Homo sapiens: one gene and its partners. The protein of the gene in region 4 purifies or fractionates together with the protein of the main gene of each other region. This does not show direct contact. Each region holds a gene or a part of one and is shown on either strand. Other genes may lie near its edges. The genes, in order: CUL4B, SMARCA1, LIN9, SAP130, BPTF, BRMS1L and CHD5.

Region 1 (3,302 bases), on a different chromosome or scaffold from region 4:
GGTCATCGGTAGTAAAAAAGGAGTCAAATAATATTGAATCAACAGGTTAGTTTATCCACTGGCTACTGCATATGACACCAAATGCTGCAAGGCCAACATTCTATGCAATATAGTTGTACTGGTTTGGATTTTCTTTATCTCTTTCCATGTAGTCCCGGTCAATTAAAGATTCTATTCTCTTCTTAAGATCAGCAGGCTGTAAGAGAAGGCAAATTTTCAATGTAAAGTTCATTATCATTGGCTCAAGCCCATTTAGTTAATACCCCATTAAAAAGACAACAGTTTCGGCTCATGAATTTAATCTCCTTTTTTAAAATTTTTATTTATTTAAATCTCTTTTTTAGAGAAAAGTATCATGAAAATAAACCAGGTTAAAAAATGTTTTATACACGTTGAAGATTCTTTTTTTTTTTTTTTGAGACGGAGTCTCGCTCTGTCACCCAGGCTGGACTGCAGTGGCACCACTTTGGCTCACTGCAACCTCCACCTCCTGGGTTCAAGTGATTCTTCTGCCTCAGCTTCCCGAGTAGCTGGGACTAGACACAAGCCACCACGCCTGGCTAATTTTTGTATTTTTGGTAGAGATGGGGTGTCACCATATTGGCCAGGCTGGTCTTGAACTCCTGACCTCAGGTGATCCACCTGCCTCAGCCTCCCAAAGTGCTGGGATTACAGGGATGAGCCACCGTGCCCAGGTATGTTGAAGATTCTTTAACGCCAAAAGTGTTTTTGATTTTTGATTTTTTTTTGGAGCTTTTAATTTTTTTAATAGACAGGGTCTTGCTATGTCGCCCAGGCTGACCTTAAACTCTTGTTCTGGAGTAATCCCCCCAGCCTCAGCCTCCCAAAGTACTGGAATCCCAGTACTCACAGGTGTGAGCTACCATGCCTGGTCCTGACTTTTTCATTTTGGTATATTTGCATATACATAGTGAGATACCATGGAGATGGGACCCAAGTCTAAACACAAAATTCATCTATGTTTCATACATACCTTACATAGCCTGAAGATAATTTTATACCTTTTGTGCATGAAACAAAGTTTTGACTGCAACCTGTCAAATGAGGTAAAGTGTGGAATTTTCCACCTGTGGCATCATGTTGGCATTCAAAGTTTCCAATTTTAGAGCATTTCAGATTTTGGATTCTCATTAAAGGTGTTCAACCTGTACTATATACTATACATACATTAAACTGTCACATCCTTGTCATATTGTTACGGAATACTTTCTATTACTTTTCTATTTTAAAGAGGTCATGCCAGAAGCAGCTACCCTTCGCGTGGTTAAATACAAAAGACTACATTTATTGTAACTTCACATGAGCACTGTAAGGTAGTTTAAGGACACAGAATACTAGTTTTGTCAAGATAGTTCATGAAGCACACCTTTACTTTGGGCAAGAGTTAGTTGGCTTCATTTTTATAAATTAAGATTTAAAACGTACTGATGAAATCACTATTTAGACCGGGTGTGGTGGCTCATGCCTGTAATCCCAGCACTTTGGGAGGCTAAGATGGGTGGATCACCTGAGGTCAGAAGTTTGAGACCAGACTGGCTAACATGGCAAAACCCCATCTGTACTAAAAATACAAGAATTAGCCAGGTGTGGTGGTGGGCGCCTGTAGTCTCAGCTACCAGGGAGACTGAGGCAGGAGAATTGCTTGAACCCGGGAGGTGGAGGTTGTAGTGAAACGTGATCGCGCCACTGCACTCCAACCTGGGTGACAGAGCAAGAAGACTCCATCTCAAAAAAAAAAAAAATCACTATTTAAAAGAATACTGGACAGGTGCAGTGGCTCATGCCTGTAATCCCAGCACTTTGGGAGGCTGTGGGCAGATCATGAGGTCAGGAGTTCGAGACCAGCCTGACCAATATGGTAAAACCCCGTCTCTACTAAAAACACAAAAATTAGCCAGGCGTGATTGTGCGCACCTGTGGTCCCAGCTACTCGAGAGGCTGAGGCAAAAGAATTGCTTGAACCCGGGAGGCAGACGCTGCAGTGAGCCAAGATCATGCCACTGCACTCCAGCCTGGATGACAGAGCGAGACTCCATCTCAAAAAAAAACTACATGAAATGGCTTGATAAATGAAGTACCTCATAATTTAGATCTTCATATTTCTGGTTTAGTGCATCTAAGTGACTTGGATTTCTGCATCCTGTGATTTAAAAGTAATCAAGAAAGCTTGTAGCTTTATCTTCATGATTGCATTCTAAGCTCCTGGATGACAAAATTCCACTATATATCTTATGTATCTAGTCTGTAAATATAATATAATCTTGTTTGCTAATAGAAAGTTTTTCAGGATAAGTAAAATGACCACTTGTTCAAGAGGGGAAAAGAGGGGAAGTAGTCTGATACAGCAGTGAAAATTTTATCCAGTAATCCCAAGGTTGGGAAATCAGATGACTTCTCTTAATTATGGTGAAAGACCTAGAATATCAGCACAATATTAACTACAGCGATCCCCTAATTTCCCCAGCATCAGTGATCTCTCTGGCTTGAGGTGAAATGACTATTAAGCAGAGCATGAGGGTGAGAGGGTGGTAATGAGGAGTGCGATATTAGGTTTGGAGAAAAGAAAATGCTTACCTTATTAGAACTAAGAGCTACCGAGTGCTTATTATGTACCAGGTCCAGTGCTAAGATTTTTACATTCATGATCTCACTTAAACCTCACAATAATCCTACAAGGTAAGTACTATTATTATCTCAGTTTTACAAAAGAGGAAACAAGATCAGCATGGTGAAGTGATTTATGAAAGTCCAAAGCTCATAAGAACCCTAATAGCTAGCAGTCTATTCAAACTCTATCAATGTTTATCATCCAAGGGTTTGGCTATCTACCTCCTAAAACTTGGAAAAAAGGCCAGTACAACATCACATTAAGTGACTTTATTATTGGTCATTCACAATGGAACGTTTCCATTTAATGACCAATTTCAGTTTACCAGAACTATCACTACACTTTTCAAAAAGATGCTTAATCATGACTAGTTATCTGTATGGTTTTTAACAGATGATCTCTTATATAAGCTAACTAAACAGGAGATTTAACTCAATCCACAATAACTAAATCTGTCAAATACCATGGTATTTCAATAAATACCATGGTATTTCAAGAGGAAAAGAAGTAAATAACCAACCAAGAAGTTCAAAAGAAATATAGTGAATAAACTTGAAAATTTCAAACACTCATTTAGCAGTTAAACTTTCAGGTATCCAGGCTTTTCTGTTATTTTTCCCTTTTGTCACTGCTGCCCACATATGCCAACAAAGTTTTTTTTTTTGGAAATCAT
Region 2 (3,500 bases), on a different chromosome or scaffold from region 4:
GAAAACTTGCTAGACATATTTACCTATTTTTAATAAGATTTCTGGATAGCTAAACACGAAGAGGTTTCGCCCAGGGAGGGCACCAAAGCGCTGCGCCCTCTTGGCCCATACTTTGCCCTACACGCTTCATCTGTATCCTTTACAATACCCTTTATAATAAACCAGTAAGTGTAAAAAAAATCCATATGCTTCAGCAGCTAAACTGATTCTGGTCGAGCTCAACAACACAGGTGAGTAAGAGAGGGAGAGGATTTGAGGACCAGTTAACAGATTGATTAAAGCAATCTTTTCAGCTCTACGCCCGCTAGCCCCAAGTTAATGGGACCCACAGGAACTCTCTGGAATAGGGTGGAACTCTGAGGGTGTTTGAGCATCTAAATGGGCCTGACAGGAACTCTCTACTTTAAGGACGACCTAGAAAGAAAGGCACGAATTCAATCCACTGAATGTGAATCTCAGAACTGAACCAGAAGACCAAATTCCAGAGGTGGGAAGGTGGGAAACTAATTTTGTCAATGCTTATCCAAGAGCCACCCTTGTTTTATCAGAGCTTTATTTGCCTCTTTTAGCTAGGTGATAGAGACAATAGCAGTCAGTTTGTTAGGATAAATCTTATAACCTTTCTTATAACCTTTTCATAGAAATACAATTATAGTTTATACTCTCATCTATGTCTTATTCATAAAAGTTTAAAACATCTCTGAACAAAGGTACAATTAAATTGATGCTAAATAAATGAATAACGTTAAAATACAACACCATGTTTCAAATTATATACAAACCTGAATACTCCATGACCTCCTCAGGGGATTTGCCCTCTACCTCTCGAGCTATGTTATCAATGTCATCTCTTCCATATTTCTCATTAGCTTTAATAAACTGGTTAAAATCTCGTTTAGTCCAGTTTGTGAAACCCTGTGAACAAAAAGTTAAGCATTATCAATAGAGGTTAAATTAATAAATCCATTTATTGCCCTATTTACTTCTATACAATGATACATTAAAAAACACTTTAAAAGACTTAAAATGTTTCTCCTTATAAAATTGCACATATTTTATGTTGGAATCAAAAGTTGAGTGAGAGTTGTTATAGAAATAACTGCTTTTCTATTACAAAGAGAATGTTGATACATAGTTCGAAGATCTGTAGTTTTTAATTTCATATTTTATAGATGCCTACATTAAAATACAAATGCATGAAAATAAAAATGCTAATATAAATGCTGAAGTCGTGATATTCTAGTACTTCAATGATTTTTTTCACAGATCTGTTCCTACATAAATTAAAAGAGAGAAATGTGGATGCACTAAATCAAAAGAACACTGAGGAATAACCAAAAGATAATGCAAAAAAAAATTGTAGCTCTTTACATCATTCTGAACTAGTGTGAATAAATAATTTCTGTTCTAAATTATGTTCATAAATAGAACTTCTACAAGCAGAACGTTATTGGAGCCACTCAATTTCTTTACTAAAACATAAAACACTTTAGCCAGTGTTTTAAATTCCCTTGGCATTATTAGCATGTCTGTGAAGTCACAAGACCAAGAATTTGTCTTCCACTCCTCGAGCCCCAACTCACATAAATGTGATACTCCAGACACTGCAAAACTCTATCCCTGGCTTTTAGTTGATAAAGATTTCAGATGACCCCACATTTTGTTCCTACGTACTGCCATGGTTTTTTGAAAAAGATTAATTATTTAAGGCAGCAGAGAAGGACAAAAATGAATTCATATACTAGGAGAAGCAGAAAACTGATTATATTTCTAATTACAAACTAAAATATTATCTCAGTTGAGACTGTATATTCATGTTATACCGTACATTCACAATATACTCCAAGTCATGTAGCATTCTAAAGCCATAACTTTACTTTTACATTCAGGAAATACATTTTGAAAATAGAACATGAATATTTAAATGTTTTATTTTATTCTGTGGTAAGTTCTAATATTCAGCCATCTGCCATTATATTTTCAAACTAAACTTTATTACTTCCAGGCATTTGGCTCAAAAACTTATGAATGTAATTTGTGAAAATCCATACAATAAAATTACGTTATAGCAAAAAAAACCTATATAATAAATAATATACAAATATAAAAACTATCTTTCAATAATTAACGTGGAGAATTACCTACTACTATGCATCGCACATTGTTCAAAATTTGTTGAATAAATAAATCTTGCTGGCAACCCTCTATACTAAAGTAATGTCCTACGGTACACATTTTGTTTATTTTGCAAGCCTTCTATGCTGAAATTTTTATCTTCTATAGTTTATTTTAGAAGTAGAACACTCGTAAAACTCATGATAGCAATAATGACTTAAAAGCATTAATATTTTGTTCAAATGGAAACCTTCCTAATTTAATAATTGTTATACAATGATCACCTTAAATAATAATAATAATAATAAAAGCTTCAGAAATCTCTCATCATTGTATGAAAATTATAAAAAAAGATAAAAAGAATTTTGAAAATTATGAAATTATTCCATTAATAAAAAATTAGTAGAATATAACTTCAGGAGACAATTCACATCTATAAACAAAAGAAATTTAAATTTTCAAGAATATGTTAATAACAGGCTTGGCACGGTGACTCACACCTGTAGTATCAGTTGCACTTTGGGAGGCCGAGGTGGGTGGATCACTTGAGGTCAGGAGTTTGAGACCAGCCTGGCCAACATGGCAAAACCCCATCTCTACTAAAAACACAAAAATTAGCCAGGCACGGTGGTGGGTGCCTGTAATCCCAGCTACTCGGGAGGCTTGGGCAGGAGAATCACTTGAACCTGGGAGGTGGAGGATACAGTGAGCTCAGATCGCACCACTGCACTCCGGCCTGGGTGACAGAGCGAGACTGTCTCAAAAAACAAAAAAGAATATGTTAATAACTACTGTCTATCAGAATTCAAATGTGGATTCACTGACCTTATTATAATTGGCAAAATGTATGTCAAATTGCTAATACTTGACACTTATATTTTGCATATACATACTATCCACTATTTCCAAAAGGGCATATTCTATAAGATCAATTTTTAAAAATAAGGAGATTTGGTCTAAACATGTTTACAAAATAGCCCTGAGTTTTGTTGGTGTGTCACACTAGGATACTAGGCCCATACAATAAAAAGTGTGATCTATATTTTCTTTTTTTCTATTGATTGACTGTAAGTATTACAGCCATTGAAAATATTTTACTTGTGTGAGAAGTTTTTCCTTTTCTTCAGTCTCTTCTGGTGTAAGAGGTTCAGCTCCATCAATCTTTTTTTGCTCTTCTCTTTGAGCCAGAGCTGGATTTGGGATATCAGGATTCCTTGGAACCTATAAATCAAGAGATAAACTAAGAGTAAACTGATGAGAAAAATTAATTACTAAGGCTGTATATACACATATCAATCTTTAGAGTTATTTCAAGAGTAAACAATATAAAATCATAGCCAGAATGACACACGGTCCTCTCCACATTTCTGCTACCATGATCCTAT
Region 3 (3,500 bases), on a different chromosome or scaffold from region 4:
GAAAATGTTATGTAGCTTCTTCTCCAAGGTTATTTAGTCAGGACTCATCAGTTTGGTTATACTAAAGTGCTGTGTCGTTAAGGTCCAACAGAGAAATGCTAGTTCCTGGCAAATGGAAGACTTAAGTATAGATCCGAACCAGGGGTCTAGCAGATAGGGCTGGGGTCCCCTAAGGATCTCTTCCTCTGTGAGATAAAGTCTTGATTCTATCATAAAATACGATTTCTAAAAAAACTCTATATAACACATTTAACAGGCATAAAACACAAATGTATTATGAAATACTACTTACGAGAACTTCATAGTCAGGGATGGTATGGGTTCCAAGCCCTGTCCTATCAAAAGTTACTCTATAAGTAGCATTAAGAGTATCCACAGCATCTATTTGTCCAGTGAACAAACCATCATGAACACCACGTAATCGTGCTGAGAAAAGAACAAAGGCATTATGATGTGTGGGAGATACAAAGAATAGTCAAATATAAAACTGTTCCAAGCATGTAATTTAAATCATAGTACAGTATTTTGTCTATTAGAGTTTCAAAACAAGCACACACTTTATTTTTGGCTTAGAGAAACAACAAAGAATTTTTGAAACAAAAACAAAAACTATAAATGATGATCCCTAATTTCATATTTGAATAAAATTATATTACTCCCAAATTAAGAGAAAAATATTTTAAATCATTTAACTGCAAAAAAAACAACAAAAGAACTTTGGTCATTATACTCATGAGTGAAGCACCAGGAGTAGTTCAATTTAAAAAAAAAGACAAAGATGTTGTGTAGAAAATAATTAAAGAAGTTAATACTGCAGGCCTGATGCTGCTATACTTAGGAAAACCTCCTTGCAAGGTTGGCCTTTGTCTGGTATCTGGGAACTTGGATTTCGGAAGTGTTCCCACTGTTCCCTAATTAATAATGGTGGTTTTACTGTGTCTAGATTGTGCAAACGATGTGGTTAATGCTGGACACCTGCTTTCCCTCTGGAAGACTGGAATTTTAGTATGTACTAGGCAAAAGATGCCTACATACTCAGCCCCCAGTAGAACTCTGGTCACTGAGTCTCTAATGAGCTTCCCTGGTAGACAACACTTATAAGCATTGTGACAACTTGTTTCTGGGAGAATTAAAAGTCTTGCATGACTCTATTGGGAGAGGACTTTTGAAAACTTGCACGTGGTTTCCTCTGGACTTTGCCCCAAGCACCTTATTCTTTTGCCAATTTTGTTTTGTGTCCTTCACTGTAACAAATCTTACCCATGAGTACATGTGCTGAGTATTCTGAGTCTTTCTAGTGAATCACCAAAACTAGTAGTCTTGGAACTGATGACACAGATGAACTGTGTCACTATTATTTAAGTCCAGCCTAAAATAACATCAGAGAAATCCAAACAAACATCCAGCATGAGTAAAAAATTTAAGAACAACAGCATTGATGGCTGTAAACTGGGCAAAGTAATACATTTTATACTAACCAAAAAGTATAATACACAACATTTTAATAGAACACAGAAATACACAATGCAAGACTGTTTAAAATAAAAGGATCAATTGATAAAAACACAACTGTAGAGGACTAAAATCTCTCTCAGTTTCTGACAGATCCTTTAAGGGAAAAGTAAACATGGATACAGAAGATGTAAATAATGAAGCTGAGTAAACAAATATAAGCATAGAAAAGGACTACTAGTTATGGTGGCATGAAGAGGCTGGTAATTCCTCTCCACAAAAAACAAGTACAAACCTGAATGAGATTGTGAAAAACAACCATTCCAGGGTACTGGAAATGGATCAAATGTAGAAAACAAGAAACGTTTATTGTTGAAGAAGTGCTAGAGCTTCAGGTTAGGGCAGGGGGACTCAGTGGCCTCTTTGCACGAGGTTATTCACACACCCACTACTACCACCAACGTGGTCGATGAGAATGGTTTTATTAGTTCAGGGTTGGTCACGAAAACCAGCCAGAATTTTGACTGGTCATGAAAGACAGCCAGAAATTTAACAGGGAGATCATGGAAACTAGAGAGCCATAAAAGGGCGGAAATAAGCTCTCTACCATCCCTGGCTAACTGGGTTACTATGCAAATGGAGGGGGAAGATCCAATAGTCTGGCAAAAAGTAAAAGCTAAGGATGACTTGAAAACTAGCAGCAACTTTGTATTTACATTCCCCAACTCACATATAAATCAATGTGAGGCTTTTCCCGATCAAGATGTTTGAGCATAACCTCTGTTCAAATCATTAGGTGACCACTAAATTATTATTATTATTTTGAGATGGGAGTCTCGCTCCGTTGCCCAGGATGGAATGCAGTGGCACGATCTCGCTCACTGCAACCTCCACCTCCCGGGTTCAAGTGATTCTCCTGCCTCAGCCTCCTGAGTAGCTGGGATTACAAGTGCCCGCCACCACACCCGGCTAATTTTTTTTTGTATTTTTAGTAGAGACAGGGTGTCACATGCTGGCCAGGCTGGTCACAAACTCCTGACATCAGGTGATCCGCCCGCCTCAGACTCCCAAAGTGTTGGGATTACAGGCGTGAGCCACCGCACCCAGCCCTGACCACTAAATTATATGCAGACACAGGGGTAACTCTTTGGAAATCAAGTTTAATAATAATAATAAATATAAGAATAAAAAATGAAGCAGAGACATCAGTATTTGCATAGCCAAGTTATTAAAGCAAATCCAACAACTCTCCAAAAAATTAGAATACATAGTTGCTACAATATATTATCTGAAATATCAAGTTTTCCACCAAAAATTACTAGACATGTAAAGAAGTAGGAAAGCATGGCTCTTAAGAAAAGTACAGTAAGAAATTGAGAGAGATATTTAGCAAAGACTTAAAAAAGCAGCTGTTATAAATATGTTCAAAGAATTAAAGTAGGCTGGGCGTGGTGGCTCACTTTGGGAGGCCCAAGAGGGTGGATCGCTGGAGCTCAGGAGTTCAAGACCAGTCTGTGCAACATGGTGAAACCCCATCTCTACAAAAACATACAAAAAAATTAGCCAGGCATGGTGGCATGTGCCTGTAGTCCCTGGAGGCTGAGGTGGGAGGATTGCTTGAGCCCAAGAGGTAGAGAGGTAGAGACTGCAGTGAGCCAGGATAGTACCACTGCACTCCAGCCTGGAAGACAGAGCAAGACTCTGTCTCAAAAAAAAAAAAAAAAAAAAAAAAAAGGTTTGTGTATGTATGTACTTTTTTCCTATTCTCTTCATTTCTGTTTTTTGAAAAATTTATTTGATAAATAAAATCTTTTTTATTTCTTTTCCATTTACTCCTTTAGATAACCTACAGAAAATCCCAGATAACCTGGAATTATCGTTCATTTTACAAAGATTACTTTTAGGATAGTTCAGATTCTTATAATTTCTTAACAAATCAATGATTTTAATATCTTTTTTAACACTCTCATTTCTCCAGGGGTAAACAACTGTGGCTTAAGTATGACGTCTCAAACAACTTTCTATATACTGTAGCTAAAGTATCATGT
Region 4 (3,500 bases):
ACCACTGTCTACTCATTGCTCAAACCAGTAGCTGAGGCTTTTTTTTTTTTTTTTTTGCGCAATAGGGTCTCACTCTGTCACTCAAGCGGCAGTACAGTGGCATAATCACAGCTCACTGCAGCCTCGATCTTTTGGGCTCCCCAGCTAATTTTATTTTATTTTTTATTTTTTTAATTTTTTTGAGACAGAGTGTCACTCTGTGGCCCAGGCTGGAGTGCAGTGGTGCGATCTCAGCTCACTGCAGTCTCTGCCTCCTGGGTTTAAGTGATTCTTGTGCCTCAGCCTCTGAGTAGCTGGGATTACAGGCATGCGCTACCATGCCTGGGTAATTTTTTTTTTTTTTTTCGCATTTTTAGTAGAGACAGGGTTTCACCATGTTGGCCAGGCTGATCTCGGACTCCGGACTCCAGACTTCAAGTGATCCACCCTCCTTGGCCTCCCAAAGTGCTGGGATTACAGGCATGAGCCACCACACCCAGCCACATGTTCAGCTAATTTTAAATTTTTTTGTAAAGAGGGGATCTCACAATGTTGCCGAAGCTGGTCTCAAACTCCTGGACTCAAGTAATCCTCCGTTCTCAGCCTCCCAAAGTGTTAGGATCACAGGTGTGAGTCACTGTGCTGAGCTGGAAGCATCTTTAATTGCTCTGCGTTTTCTTATGAGCTATGGCCCTTGTCTAATGTTCCAGCCTCATTTCTTACTATTTAGCCTTCCTCCTGCCAACCTAATTTTTTTTTTTTCCAATGGAGATGGAGTCTTGCTATGTTGACCAGGCTTGTCTCAAACTCCTGGCCTCAAGGAATCCTCCCGCCTAGGCCTCCCAAAATTCTGGGATTACAGGTGTGAGCCACTTGGGTGGCCGCCAACTTAGTTTTTGTTATAAATTTATTTTAGTTCTCTTTAGACTTGAAGTGACTTTAAGCTACTTATGACTCCTGCTCGATGGTATCTACTCATATTTCTAAATAAATGATTAAAAAATTCCCAATTTCACGACTTTGGGACTTTGCACATTCTTTTCCTTTTGCCATAGTCTTCCTTGTTTCTTTCCATATACTTACTTATTTGGCTAATTCCTTCTTTTTTCAAGTTTCAACTTAGATGTTATTTTCTCTAGAATATTCTAGAGAATATTATTATTCTCTAGAATAACAGAAGACTCTATCTTCCATAACAACTCAGGTAGAGAATCTAGAAATAGAACCAGATATATATAGCCAATTGATTTTTGATAAAAGTTCCTAAGTAATTCAATAGGGAAATGATAGTCTTCTTTTTTTCTGAGACGGAGTCTCACTCTGTCTCCCAGGCTGGAGTGCAGTAGCATGATCTCGGCTCACTGCAAGCTCTGCCTCCCAGGTTCACACCATTCTGCCTCAGCCTCCTGAGTAGCTGGGACTACAGGCGCCCACCACCGTGCCCGGCTAATTTTTTGTATTTTTTAGTAGAGACGGTGTTTCACTGTGTTAGCCAGGATAGTCTCGATCTCCTGACCTCTTGATCTGCCCGCCTCAGCCTCCCAAAGTGCTGAGATTACAGGCATGAGCCACTGCGCCTGATGGTCTTTTCAGTAAAATAGTGCTGGAAGATCATAACATCATTATGGGGGAATAAAGGCTGTGTGCAGTAGGCTCATGCCTGTTATCCCAGCACCATGGGAGGCCAAGGCAGGTGGATCGCTTTGAGCTCAGGAGTTTGAGATAAGCCTGGGCAACATGGCAAATCCCCGTTTCTACAGCAAATACAAAAATTAGCCGAGGCCAGGCTAATTGTACAGTGGCTCATGCCTGTAATCCTAGCATTTTGGAAGGCTGAGGTGGGCAGATCACCTGAGGCCAGGAGTTCGAGACCAGCTTGGCCAACATGGTGAAACCTGTCTCTACTAAAAATACAAAAATTAGCTGGGCGTGGTGGTGGGTGCCGGTAATCCCGGCTAATCGGGAGGCTGAGGCAGGACAGTCACTTGAACTTTGGGAGGCAGAGCTTGCAGTGAGCCAAGATAGCGCCACTGCACTTCAGCCTGGGCAACAAAGCAAGATTCCGTCTCAAAAAAAAAAAAAAATTAGCCAGGTGTGATGGCTCATGCCTATAGTCCCAGCTACTTGAGAGGCTGAGGTGGGAGGATCGCTTGAGCCTGGGAAGCGGAGGTTGCAGTGACCTGAGATCTTACCAATGCACCCCAGCCTGGGTGACGGAGTGAGATCTTGTCTCCAGGAAAAAAAAAAACAAGAACTTATAACTCAGTAGTAAAAAGACAAACAACCTGATTTTTTTTAAGACGGGAAAATATTTGAGTACAGAAGAGCTAGATAAGTGCCAAAGAAGCACATGAGAAGATGCTCACCATTATTAATCCTCAGGGCAGTGCACATTAAAACCACTGTGAGAAACTACTGCACATCCAGTAGAAAGACTGAAATTACAAAGACTGACAATACCAAGTGTTGGAATGGTTGTAGCGCAAATAGAACTCATACTTTATTGTTGGGAATGCAAAATGGCTAGCCACTTCAAGAAACAATTTGGCAATATCTTATAAAATTAAATATACACTTACCACACCACTGAGCAATCTCATTCCATAGGTATTTATCAAAGGTAAATGAAAATATATGTTTATACAAGGACTTATATTCACATGTTCGTAGAAACTGTATTCATAATAGCCAAAACAGGGTTCTCACCAAATGTCTATCAGATGGTGACAGGATAAGCAAATTGTTGTGTGTCCATCCGTGCAGTGGAATGCTACTTGGCAATAAAAAGGACCAGACTACCAGTATACACAACATTATGGATAACCCTCAGTAACATTACACTAAGGAGAGAATCCAGATACATAGGACTACAGATGGTATGATTGTGTTATGTGAAATTCCAGAAAAGACTATGCCATAGTGACAGAAAGCAGATCAGTGGTTTCTGGAGAATAGAGGTTGTGGGGAGGGAATTGACTGCAAAGGGGTGTGAATGAACTCACTGGAGTAACAGGAAATGATCTGTATCATGATTGTGTTATACCGCTGTATACTTTTGCGAACACTTATCTAATGTTACACAAAGAATTAGTGAATTTTATATGTAAATTGTACCTCAGTAAAGCTAATTGATTAAAATGGACAAAAGATAAACATGCACTTCACTAAAGAAGATATATATGAATGGGCTGGGATCACATAAAAAGATGTTCAACATTACTAGTCATCATGGAAATGCTAATTAAAACTACAGTGAGACACACACTACAACCCACTAGAATGGCTGTATATCAAGCAATGAGTAAGGAAGAGGAGCAGCTTGTATACTGCTAATGGGAACAGGCAATGCTACAATCACTTTGGAAATGACTTCGGCAAAGTTAAACATATACTTACCATTTGACCCAACCATTCTGCTCCTTGGTGTTGCTGAGGATATTTGTAAAAAAATTATTGAACTTTTCTTGTAAACCAGTGGTGGTATTCTATGTAATCTATTCCCCAATAAAGAGGTTTTATAG
Region 5 (3,500 bases), on a different chromosome or scaffold from region 4:
ATTATCTGGGTGTGGTGGTGCACACCTGTGATCTCAGCTACTCAGGAGGCTGAGGCAGGAGAATTGCTTGAACCCAGGAGGCGGAGGTCGCAGTGAGCTGAGGTCACGCCACTGCACTCCAGCCTGGGCGACAGAGTGAGACTCCGTGTCAACAAAAAAAAAAAAAAAAAAAAAAATTGTCAGTGACAACTGAAACAAGAGTGATAAAATTTGGATGGGTGTAGTGGCTTATGCCTGTAATCCCAGCACTTTGGGATGCCAAGGTGGGCGGATCACTTGAGGACAAGGAGTTCAAGACCAGCCTAGCCAACATGGTGAAACCCCGCCTCTATTAAAAATACAAAAATTAGCCAGGCATGGTGGCGTGCAACTGTGATCCCTACTCAGGAGGCTGAGGCAGGAGAATCGCTGGAACCTGGGAGTTGGAGGCTGCAGTGAACTGAGATCGTACCACTGCACTCCAGCCTGGGTGACAGAGTGAGACTCCATCTCAAAAAAAAAAAAAAAAAAAGTGGTCAGTGACAACTGAAACAAATGTGATAAAATTTGGGTGAGTGTGGTGGCTCATGCCTGTAATCCCAGCACTTTGGGAGGCTGAGGCAGGCAGATCACTTGAGGCCAGGAGTTCAACACCAGCCCAACAAGGTGAAACCCCATCTCTACTAAAAATACAAAAATTAGCCAGTCATGGTGGTACGAGCCTGTAGTCCCAGCTACTTGGGAGACTGAAGCAGGAGAATTGCTTCAACCTGGGAGGCAGAGTTTGCAGCGAGCTGAGATGGTGCCACTGCACTCCAGCCTGGCTGACAGAGCAAGACTCTGTCACACACATAAAAAAATAAAATGAAAGAAAACTCGTGTATGAAGGATTATCACAATCTATTTGATCATTCCAGAAAGCCCATATCAGTGGTTTCTAACATACTTTGTGTCACAGAACCCTATTAGAAATGGATAAATGCTATGATCCTCTACCAAGGAAAAAAGTATGTATATAAACTTTTGTAATCTATTTCAATGGTTCTTGGACTCCTTGAAGTTTATATAACAGAATAAAAGACTGAAAAAAAGGATCAAAGGCAATCTGTGGCCTTGTTTACTGCTTACAGTAAAAAGGTATCTCTAAGACAACCAGGGCAAGTGGAATATGGACTGAGAATCAGATTATTAATTTGTTAATTACGGTTAATTTGTTGAGTGTGATAATGACATGATGGTTATGGAAAAATGTCTACGTAGAGATACATATTGAACTTCTGGTGAAACATGATTTCTGGGATTTATTTTAAAACACTGCAGGATTAAAAAAAGTGGTCAGTGACAACTAAACAAAGAGTGATAAAATTTGGCTGGGAGCAGTGACTCACACCTGTAATCCCAGCACTTTGGGAGGCCGAGGCAGGCAGATCACTTGAAGTCAGGAGTTCGAGATCAGCCTGGCCAACATGGCAAAACCCCGTCTCTATTAAAAATACAAAAATTAGCTCGGCGTGGTGGCGGGTACTTGTAATCCCAGCTATTTGGGAGGCTGAGGCAAGAGAATTGATTGAACCCGGGAGGTGGAGGTTGCAGTGAGCTGAGACCATGCCACTGCACTCTAGCCTGGGTGACAGAGCAAAACTCCATCTCAAAAAAAAAAAAAAAGTGATAAACTTTGATAATTGTTGAAGCTGAATGAGTTCATTATTCTCTTTGTATTTGTGTAGTTTTAAATTTCCCATAATAATTACAAAAAAAAAAAAAAAATCAAGCCTCCCAAAACAGAACTACTGTCTAGATGAATATTCTTGGGACTTAAAGGTTTTTTTTTTTTTTTTGGAGACAGTGTCTTGCTCTGTCACCCAGGCTGGAGCACAGTGGGTTCATCTCAGCTCACTGCAGCCTTGAACTCCTGGGCTCAAACGATCCTCCCTCATCAGCCTCCTGAGTAACTGGGAATACAGGTGTGTACCAATATGTCTGGCTAATTTTTGCATTTTTTGTAGAGATGGGGATTTGCCATGTTGCCCAGGCTGTTTCTTGAACTCCTGGGCTCAACTGATCCTCCCCTGCCTTGGCATCCCATCACAGGTGTGAGCCATGGCACCTGGACTTAAAGGCATTTTCCTATTCTTTACCTTCTTCACTTGAACCTAAATATCCCAAGGACCTAGCAAGGTATATCCATTTTTTATTTAAATGAATGATTTCTTCCAGAAAGGTCTGGCTGAAGGGAAGAGAGTGCAAAGAAATCATAATTCTGTCGCGAGCAAGATACTGGTGTGAGAAAATAGATATAAAAAATATATCTATTTTTAATTTAAATGAATGATTTCTTCCAGAAAGGTCTGGCTGAAGAAAGAGAAGAGAGTGCAAAGAAACCGTAATCCTGTCAAGAGCAGGATAGTGGTGAGGTAAGAGAAGAATCACAGAAAAGGGCTTGGGACCTGCCAGCGTTCTATCACTCTGTGCATATGTGGTCTTCACTATGTCACCTGGCACCCTCGTGAAATAATCGGCTCATTGAACTTGAGTTTAAAAACACATGATCTTTTAAAAGAGCAGTTCATCTCTATAGAGTTCGGTGATTCTAAATACTAAAGCTCATTAGCCAGTTGTAAAAACTCAATTAATAGCTTATTTATAGGCCAGGCGCAGTGGTCACACCTGTAATCCCAGCACTTTGGGAGGCCGAGGCGGGCAGATCACAAAGTCAAGAGATTGAGACCACCCTGGCCAACATAGTGAAACCCTGTCTCTATAAAAAATACAAAAATTAGCTGGGCATGGTGGTGTGCACTTTTAGTCCCAGCTACTCGGGAGGCTGAGGCAGGAGAACTGCTTGAACCCAGGAGGCGGAGGTTGCAGTGAGGCCAGATACGCCACTGCACTCCAGCCTGGTGACAGAGCAAGACTCCATTTCAAAAAAACAAAAACAACCCCTCCCCCCAAAAAAAACCTCATTATTTTTTTAAATTATACTTTAGTTCTAGGGTACGTGCGCACAACGTGCAGGTTTGTGACATATGTATACATGTGCCATGTTGGTGTGCTGCACCCATTAACTCTACATTTACATTAGGTATATCTCCTAATGCTATCCCCCAACCTCCCCCAACCCCACGACAGGCCCCGGTGTGTGATGTTCCCCATCCTGTGTCCAAATGTTCTCACTGAAAAACCTCATTTATGTGACAGTGTTTTGGAAGCCTCTATCACTTTCTTTCTGGTTTTCTCTTACTTGCAACAATGCTAAGGTTACTAGATACATGACTCCTCAGTGAATTAGTACTGAATTAAGATTTTTTTTTTTAAGAGATTGAGTCTGGTTCTGTCATCCAGGCTCGAGTGCAACAGCACAATTATAGCTTACTGCAGCCTCAAACTCCTGGCCTCAAGCAATCCTCCTGCCTCAGACCCCCAAGTAGCTGGGACCACAGCCATGTGGCACTACACCTGGCTAATTTTTAAAACGTTTTTGTAGAGATGGGGTCTTGCTATGTTGCCCAGGCTGGCCTTGA
Region 6 (3,500 bases), on a different chromosome or scaffold from region 4:
ACATCCCATAAATAAAAAGATAATAAATTCAACTACATTAAAATGTAAAACTTCTTTGCAGCAAGTCATCAGAAAGAGTGAAAACATCGTACCACCTGGGCAAAAAGATTTGCAAAGCATACAACCAGCAAAGCATTTATAGCCAGAATATATAAAGAACTTATATAGTCAATGAGGGAAAGACTAAAAGCCAACACAAAGGCAAGAAATACAAATAGGCACTTCTTAGGAAAAAATATCCAAGCAGCTAGTAAACGCCAAAAAGATAATCAATCTCAGTTGTAATTATGAAAATGAAACAATGAGCTCTATCATTTTTATACCTAACTACTCTTAGTTTACGGCACATTAAAGTGACAGAAGAATCGTTATAGAACTTGTCCTCTTATTTCTACCTGTATATCTATAATCTTGTCTAGATTTGATAAAAAGTTATCTGCAAAACGGGCACTATGGGGTTTTTTTGTTTGTTGTTGTTGTAGTTGCTATTTCTGAGACAGGGTGACACTCTGTTACCCAGGCTGCAGAACAGTGGCACAATCACAGCTCACTGCAGCCTCAACCTCCGAAGGTCAAGCAATCCCCTCACCTCAGCCTCCTGAGTAGCTAGGACTACAGCCACCTGCCACCATGCCCAGCTAATTTTTCTATTTTTTGTAGAGGTGGGGGGTCTCACTATGTTGCCCAGACTGGTCTTGACTTCCTGAGCTCAAGAAATCCTCTCGCCTCAGCCTCCTAAACTCTTGGGATTACAGGTGTGAGCCACCATGCCTGGGCACTATGTTTTTTAAATGCTATAAATATTTTAACCCATTTATGCCTAGTGTTCCATTACTGGAATGTTAAGCTTGTGGGAGTTATTTATATCCTACTGCTCAAGGTCATCACCAAGATCTGATTTTTCACACACACAAAAAAATTGCAACCTTCAGCATAAATGGGTTAAATGCAAAATAAACAGAATATACAGAAAAATATACCTATTTTTTTTCCCATAAATAGAGAATTCTGCCCAAAGATGTGGAAATAGGTCTAGACAGACAGAAACTAATTCTATAGCCCAACATCCTAACTGCACCATTGAGTGTATATTTCGCAAATCTAATCCACATTATACTAATTATACTAATATTTTCAGTAATGCCAGGTGACATAATCGTTGCAAAGTCTTTTTAAAGTAACAGCTGCAAAACTTCTAAAATTATCTCAGTTTTTTTCTATGGTCCTTTCTTTGTGTCCTATCTCCAATACAGCTTCCAATGCAACTCTATTCTTTTTTTTTTTTAATCACACACAAATGATGAGCTAAAGTACTATTTAATATTGTTTTACTTAGTTTACTTTTTTAACTACTACACTCAGAAAAGGCTTGAAGAGATGAAATTAGCTTAAAAGTTATGCAAAATGACAGTACCTCACAATGCTGGCGAGAAGCTTGAATTTCACATTCATATTTGTTCTTTACAGATTCTAAGCAGAGCTCTCTATAGATTCCTGCAACCAAACACAATTACTCTGATTATGTTAGCAATGAGAAGTTCCATTATCACTTCCCTACAGGAATTCTGTCCTCACTGTATTTAATAAGATGGATCAAGAAAAAATTGAAAAGTGAGTCTAACTTTGTCTTTAAAGACTAAAAATAAAAGGCTCACTTAAAATATATATCCAAAAAGATTAGAAATTATAAGAGCTAGAAAGAAACTGTACTGCTAGTTTTTGTTCTTAATCTATTCTTCTAAAGATTACTCCTAAATGTTTGATACAGAATAATCAAAATGAAAATAAAACTCTTTTCCTGTGAAAAACAATCTCTCAAGTTTCTCAAAATAGAAATGGAGATAATAAACTCTGGTGTCATCAATCACATATACTCAGAGTAACAGCTAGATACTATACCCCACCAAAACCACTTTTTTTTTAACTATCATTTTCAATCCAAAGAATCCACGAGGAGTAAATGTATATAAACTGATATAACAAAATCAATTATGTCTGGAGTGCTCCTGACAGGACTTTATCTAGAGGATGGATACCCAAGATAGTTTAACTTAGACCCTAACAGGACAATAGTATAAAATAGGTAACATGGCCATGCAAATATGTCACTACAAAAACGGCACGCAAAGAGCTCTGGATATGTATTCTAAGCTTTATGCCATAGTTGGCCCTAGAAATGTAATTATCTCTCTTTGTATAGTAAAGGCAAGAGACAGATATCTGGAACTACGTCATCAGCAACACATTCACACACACTACTCTGCAAAATCAAAATATAAAAGAGGCCAGAGTAGAAAAGTAAATAATCGACTCAAGTAATATTTCCTGATCATCCATGTAATCTAAAAGAACAAAGAAAATTAGGGATATTTTTACTTCTAAGGGTATGTTGTCAATATGTAAAGATAGCAGTGAAGAGTATCATATCATCTACATAATATTAAGCACTCAAAAATAAAATTTGGTTAAAGGAGGGTTTAGTAAAAAGAACTTATTATCAACAATGCCTTAGGTATTATCTAACAGGTACATAAGGGTCAATTAGTGCCACATAAGAGAAAAACAACCAGCATCTCCACTAATTAAAGTTTAGTTTTTGACTATGAAAAATCATATATATATCCCTTGATTATGAGTGCCAGGACATGATACTGAGGCTGGATCCTATTTACAAACATAAGACTGAAATGTAACCATACAAATATAGTGCATCTTTGTTTATTTGTAGCCACAAATGAGTAACCAAACTTATCAAAGTAAAAAGGAAAAATTAAATCATCTAGTTCAAGGCAAGTTTCCTGTTCTATAATATCCTGATCAAACATTTTTAAAATTTTTTATAAATTAAAAAAAATCCTATCACTTTTACGTATTAAAAAAATGCCTAGAACACTTAAACTTTATCTAATAGGGAATTAAAATGTGATAGTAACAGTCTCTCTTAATGAAAGTATCATGGTTTCCAGTTGTTTCACCAAATGTGGAACTATCTTCTCAACAACACTGTAAACAACTTGAGGGCTTTTTTTTTTTTTAATCCCCTACAGCAGCAGAGCAAAGCAAGAGGTATTCAATAAATACAGTAACTGTGGGCTAACTAAAAGTAAAATATTCTGGTCGATGTAAATATGCTTGTAATCCCATCAACATAAAACACTTACTTGATAAACACCTTTTAAAGCTACTGAAGAGTTTACATTCTATATATGGAAAAGATTCTTCACTTTCCTACCTGCTACCTTTGTACGAATTTGCATATTTTCCTGTAAAGTTGCCAGCGGTTCCAAGTATTCTGGTGCTTTTCCAGCTATGACTTCTTGTAGTTTTGCATCCACCTGACTTAATCGTTCTTTATAAAGTCTTAACAAAGCAAAAATTAATATGTTAATTTAAAAATCTCAACAAAGGCTAACAATTTGCCATTTCTATACATTATTTGTTCCCAATATCATTTATATTCTAATAATCTATCAAATATATTTTGCCTTGATCTCAAGCAG
Region 7 (3,500 bases), on a different chromosome or scaffold from region 4:
AGTGGCCCTGGAGAGAGAGGCCGATGCCGTGAGACCACCTGCCCTTGGCCAGGACCAGCCACCCCTCCTGGCCGCCTGCCCCGCCTGCCCACCTCCTTGTAGAGGGAGTAAAGGAACACGATGGTCTGCACCGTCTTGCCCAGACCCATCTCATCGGCCAGGATGGTGTCAGTGCCCTGGGCCCAAGAGAAGCGCAGCCAGTTGAGGCCCTCCAGCTGGTACGGGTGCAGTGTGCCGCCTGTGGAGTCGATGTACCATGGCTGCTTGTCGAACTTGACCGTGGGCTGCAGGGGAGGCAGCGGTTCAGACACGCCCCAGATCCTGGGCCACCAGAGTCCACACTACAGGCCTTTGCACATGCAATTCCTTCTGCCTGGAACACTCTTCCCACTCCTGTCTGTCTTCCTAACTCTTCTCCAGTTCTTGGATGGAACACCTCTTCCTCTAGGAAGCCCTCCCTGACTCCCAGCCTGGCTGAAGTGCTCCCACAGTGTCCTCCCATGGCAGCCCTGTACTTCTCCTATCAGGGAAATTTCCCGACTGTTGAATTCTCTGACTCTGAGCCCAGGTTGTCATCACCACCTTGGTCCTGTTCACTGCCTCCTCTTGAGTACCACACAGTGCCTGGGACATGTGGTCACTTACTCACCATTTTTTGGATGAACAACAAAACGAACATCCATCTGGGGCATTCGCAACGCCCCCAGTAACAGGCTCCTCCACTGGATCCAGACATTTACTTTTTTTTTTTTTGAGACAGAGTCTTTGTTGCCCAGGCTGGAGTGCAGTGGCACAATCATGGCTCACTGCAGCCTCAATTTCCTGGGCTCAAGGGATTCTCCTACCTCAGCCTCCCTAGTAGCTGGGACCACAGGCACACCACCGTGCCTGGCTAATTTTTTGTAGAGGTGGGATCTCACTACGTTGCCTCAAACTTCTGGGTTCAAGCGGTCCTCCCACCCCGGCCTCCCACAGTGCTGGGATTACAGGCATGAGCCACCATGCCCGGCCCATTTGTCTCTTGATCCTGCTCCAGGTCACTGGCCCCATGCAGTCCTCCCAATGGACCAGGCCCATCTGCCTTTCCCCAGCATCTGACAGGCGCCTGATAGTCCCAGGCCAGGCCCTCCGTGTTCTGTGGATACCCACCAAGGGCCCCTAGAAGACAGTGTGTCTTCTGAAACAGCTACCCAGGGCTCACTGGCCCTCGTCTCCTCAGGGCCAACCCAGGGCCAGGCGCTAGTGGACACCCAGGGAGCTCTGCTGAGTGAGTCATCCTGGGTCTCCTCCCAGGTGAGAGTGGTGTGTAAGTAGCATGTCAGCTGCAGTGTTATGAGGGGCCTTCCAGCTGTCCTAGCCTACATGGGCATGACACTGTCTGCATAAGCCATGAGGGCCCAAGGAAACATCCTTTTGAGAACACACACCCCCTGCACATTCAAGTCTGAGGTGGGCAGGCCCTGGCAACCCCACCCACTGCTGCCCCACCCTCCCCACTCACGTCCACAATGGGCGTGTCCGGCGGCTTCTCCTGCTTGTCGTCCCTCAGCTTCTTGCCCTTCTTGAGCAGCCTCTTGGGCAGCCTGGTGTCTTCTCCCAGCATCAGCTCCCTGGGAAACGGCATTGGAGGCAGGTGAGCAAGGCTCAGCCCAGGAGCAGGTCCCGGCAGCCTGTGCCTAGCAGCCGGATCCCTGCGACCCACCTGTGGCCCCAGTAGGCCTGCTTGAGGTTGTCGTAGTAGGGGATGTCGATGTCATCGATCTCCCAGGTGCACTGGTCGTAGGGCAGGTCTTTCCACTTGATCAGGTAGTGCACATCCCCCTTCTTGTCAAAGCTGCAACACGGTGAACAGATGTGGGTCGCTCAGAGCAGTGGCCACAGCACAGGTTTGATGAAGGGCACCTCCCAGGATGCAGAGCCATTCACACCCAGGGTCCCCTCGGATGCTGGGCCCAGCCAGGAGGAGGAGACGAGGGCAGAAGCTCCAGGGAGGTGCAGCGGCTTGCCTGGGGCCACACAGCGAATGAGAGGGGGATGTGGCAGAGCTGGAGAGGGACACGGAGGCCAGCTAACAGAGGAGCAATGAGCCAGCCTCCCACATCCTTTGCAGCCTCTGTGGCAGGGATGAATCCCATTTGTCACAGGGTCTGGATTTTCACAGGAGTTCTGGATTTCTAAGTTGGAAAGTTCTCCTTCCTGCCAATGGACTCAGTTTTCTAACTTAAAATACGCAAAGGACTTGTGCAGTGCCCACGTAGGGTGAGGAGTCATCTCTGCAAAGTAGATAAGGATGCAATTCCTGCGTGTGAGGTGGTCTCTTCTGGGGACACAAAGACCCAGTGACCAAGCCCAGCAGCACACAGCTTGATTCTGGCCACTGGGAGGGTCTTTAGGGCCTCCCACCCACCCAGGCTAAGGCAACCAGGCCAGAGGAGTGCTGGAGGGCCGGGCTGGGGCTTGACTACCCCACACAGCAGTGCCGAGGAGGCACACAGACCCGGTGAGCAGCGGCTGCTGCGGGCCTGGGAACATTAAGAGAAAAACCGATCCCGTTACCACGGCAACCGATGTTTGTTTGTTTTCCCATACATAATTGATTGTTTTGCAGATTGGGGGAACAAATCTGGGGGAGATTCACCTGCCCCACTTTGGGGCAGAGAGAAAAACTACCATGTATATTTTTAGCATGTAATTTAGTAAAGGTAGAAAACCATGGGCCAATTCATTGCCGGGCTCAGGTTCCCACAGGAACTGACCCTTGAAGGTCATTCTCAGGGAGGCCTGGGGAGGAAAAGGGGGGTGTCCCATAGTTGAAGGGGGGCAGTTTTTCAAATTCCGCGACCCTCGTACTGAAGACCACCCACAGCCAGCCTCTGGCAAGCTCCTGTCACCCGTGCAGCAGCCTGTTCCCTAAAAGGGCCTCAAAGCTCAGCAGATGGGAACCGGGATTGAAATCTGAACATCTGGCTCAGGCTTTTAACCTCTGCTCTACCCAACAGCTGCCTGAAGCCAGAAGCACTGAGTGTCAGAGGCCACCGATCCTAAGCCCCTCAAAAACAGAGGCCACAGGGTAGCTGGGATGGGGAGCACAAGCTCCAAGCTGCCACCAGGCAGCAGGTACTCTGGGCCCCACCCCAAGGCCCATCTGTCAGCCACCACCAGTTCTCAAGCACCTCAACTCAAGAATCAGCAGGCATTCCCACCACCCACCAAATCAAAACCAAAGCCCACGGGCCTCCTGCCTCTGGCTCTTTGTGCCAGCCTCCTGCAGCCTCTGATTGCTAAGGCATCCCAGGGAACTGCCAGACTGCTCCAGGAAGAGCTGCTGCTGGGGCACTGGGGGGTGCAACAGTAGCTAAGAAAGCAGGTCCTGCAGTCAGAAAGCATGGGGTTCAAATCCCAGCTCCACCCCGTGGCTGTGTGATTCTGGCGACTTAACCTTGCTGTGCCTATTCTCACATCAGTAAAACAGAGGTGAAAGTAAGACGCCTCCCTCCCAG

The links.
Region 1: the proteins of SAP130 (region 4) and CUL4B purify together in Homo sapiens (affinity purification with western blotting; 2 studies listed by BioGRID, with this or other methods). This does not show direct contact.
Region 2: the proteins of SAP130 (region 4) and SMARCA1 purify together in Homo sapiens (affinity purification with mass spectrometry, with the first as the bait; one large-scale study listed by BioGRID). This does not show direct contact.
Region 3: the proteins of SAP130 (region 4) and LIN9 purify together in Homo sapiens (affinity purification with mass spectrometry, with the first as the bait; one large-scale study listed by BioGRID). This does not show direct contact.
Region 5: the proteins of SAP130 (region 4) and BPTF purify together in Homo sapiens (affinity purification with mass spectrometry, with the first as the bait; one large-scale study listed by BioGRID). This does not show direct contact.
Region 6: the proteins of SAP130 (region 4) and BRMS1L purify together in Homo sapiens (affinity purification with mass spectrometry, with the first as the bait; one large-scale study listed by BioGRID). This does not show direct contact.
Region 7: the proteins of SAP130 (region 4) and CHD5 purify together in Homo sapiens (affinity purification with mass spectrometry, with the first as the bait; one large-scale study listed by BioGRID). This does not show direct contact.

The regions. Positions count from the first base shown.
Region 1 is NC_000023.11:120,526,661-120,529,962, forward strand, and holds part of CUL4B (cullin-4B), read right to left. Parts: intron 197-3,302; coding exon 101-196; 3' UTR 1-100.
Region 2 is NC_000023.11:129,467,991-129,471,490, forward strand, and holds part of SMARCA1 (SWI/SNF-related matrix-associated actin-dependent regulator of chromatin subfamily A member 1), read right to left. Parts: intron 3,337-3,500; coding exon 3,214-3,336; intron 916-3,213; coding exon 783-915; intron 1-782.
Region 3 is NC_000001.11:226,267,665-226,271,164, forward strand, and holds part of LIN9 (protein lin-9 homolog), read right to left. Parts: intron 427-3,500; coding exon 293-426; intron 1-292. UniProt on the Homo sapiens protein: Acts as a tumor suppressor. Inhibits DNA synthesis. Its ability to inhibit oncogenic transformation is mediated through its association with RB1. Plays a role in the expression of genes required for the G1/S transition.
Region 4 is NC_000002.12:128,021,560-128,025,059, reverse strand, and holds part of SAP130 (histone deacetylase complex subunit SAP130), read left to right. Parts: intron 1-3,500. UniProt on the Homo sapiens protein: Acts as a transcriptional repressor. May function in the assembly and/or enzymatic activity of the mSin3A corepressor complex or in mediating interactions between the complex and other regulatory complexes.
Region 5 is NC_000017.11:67,905,503-67,909,002, reverse strand, and holds part of BPTF (nucleosome-remodeling factor subunit BPTF), read right to left. Parts: intron 1-3,500. UniProt on the Homo sapiens protein: Regulatory subunit of the ATP-dependent NURF-1 and NURF-5 ISWI chromatin remodeling complexes, which form ordered nucleosome arrays on chromatin and facilitate access to DNA during DNA-templated processes such as DNA replication, transcription, and repair.
Region 6 is NC_000014.9:35,832,838-35,836,337, reverse strand, and holds part of BRMS1L (breast cancer metastasis-suppressor 1-like protein), read right to left. Parts: intron 3,361-3,500; coding exon 3,233-3,360; intron 1,495-3,232; coding exon 1,415-1,494; intron 1-1,414. UniProt on the Homo sapiens protein: Involved in the histone deacetylase (HDAC1)-dependent transcriptional repression activity. When overexpressed in lung cancer cell line that lacks p53/TP53 expression, inhibits cell growth.
Region 7 is NC_000001.11:6,142,322-6,145,821, forward strand, and holds part of CHD5 (chromodomain-helicase-DNA-binding protein 5), read right to left. Parts: intron 1,835-3,500; coding exon 1,703-1,834; intron 1,611-1,702; coding exon 1,502-1,610; intron 285-1,501; coding exon 93-284; intron 8-92; coding exon 1-7. UniProt on the Homo sapiens protein: ATP-dependent chromatin-remodeling factor that binds DNA through histones and regulates gene transcription. May specifically recognize and bind trimethylated 'Lys-27' (H3K27me3) and non-methylated 'Lys-4' of histone H3.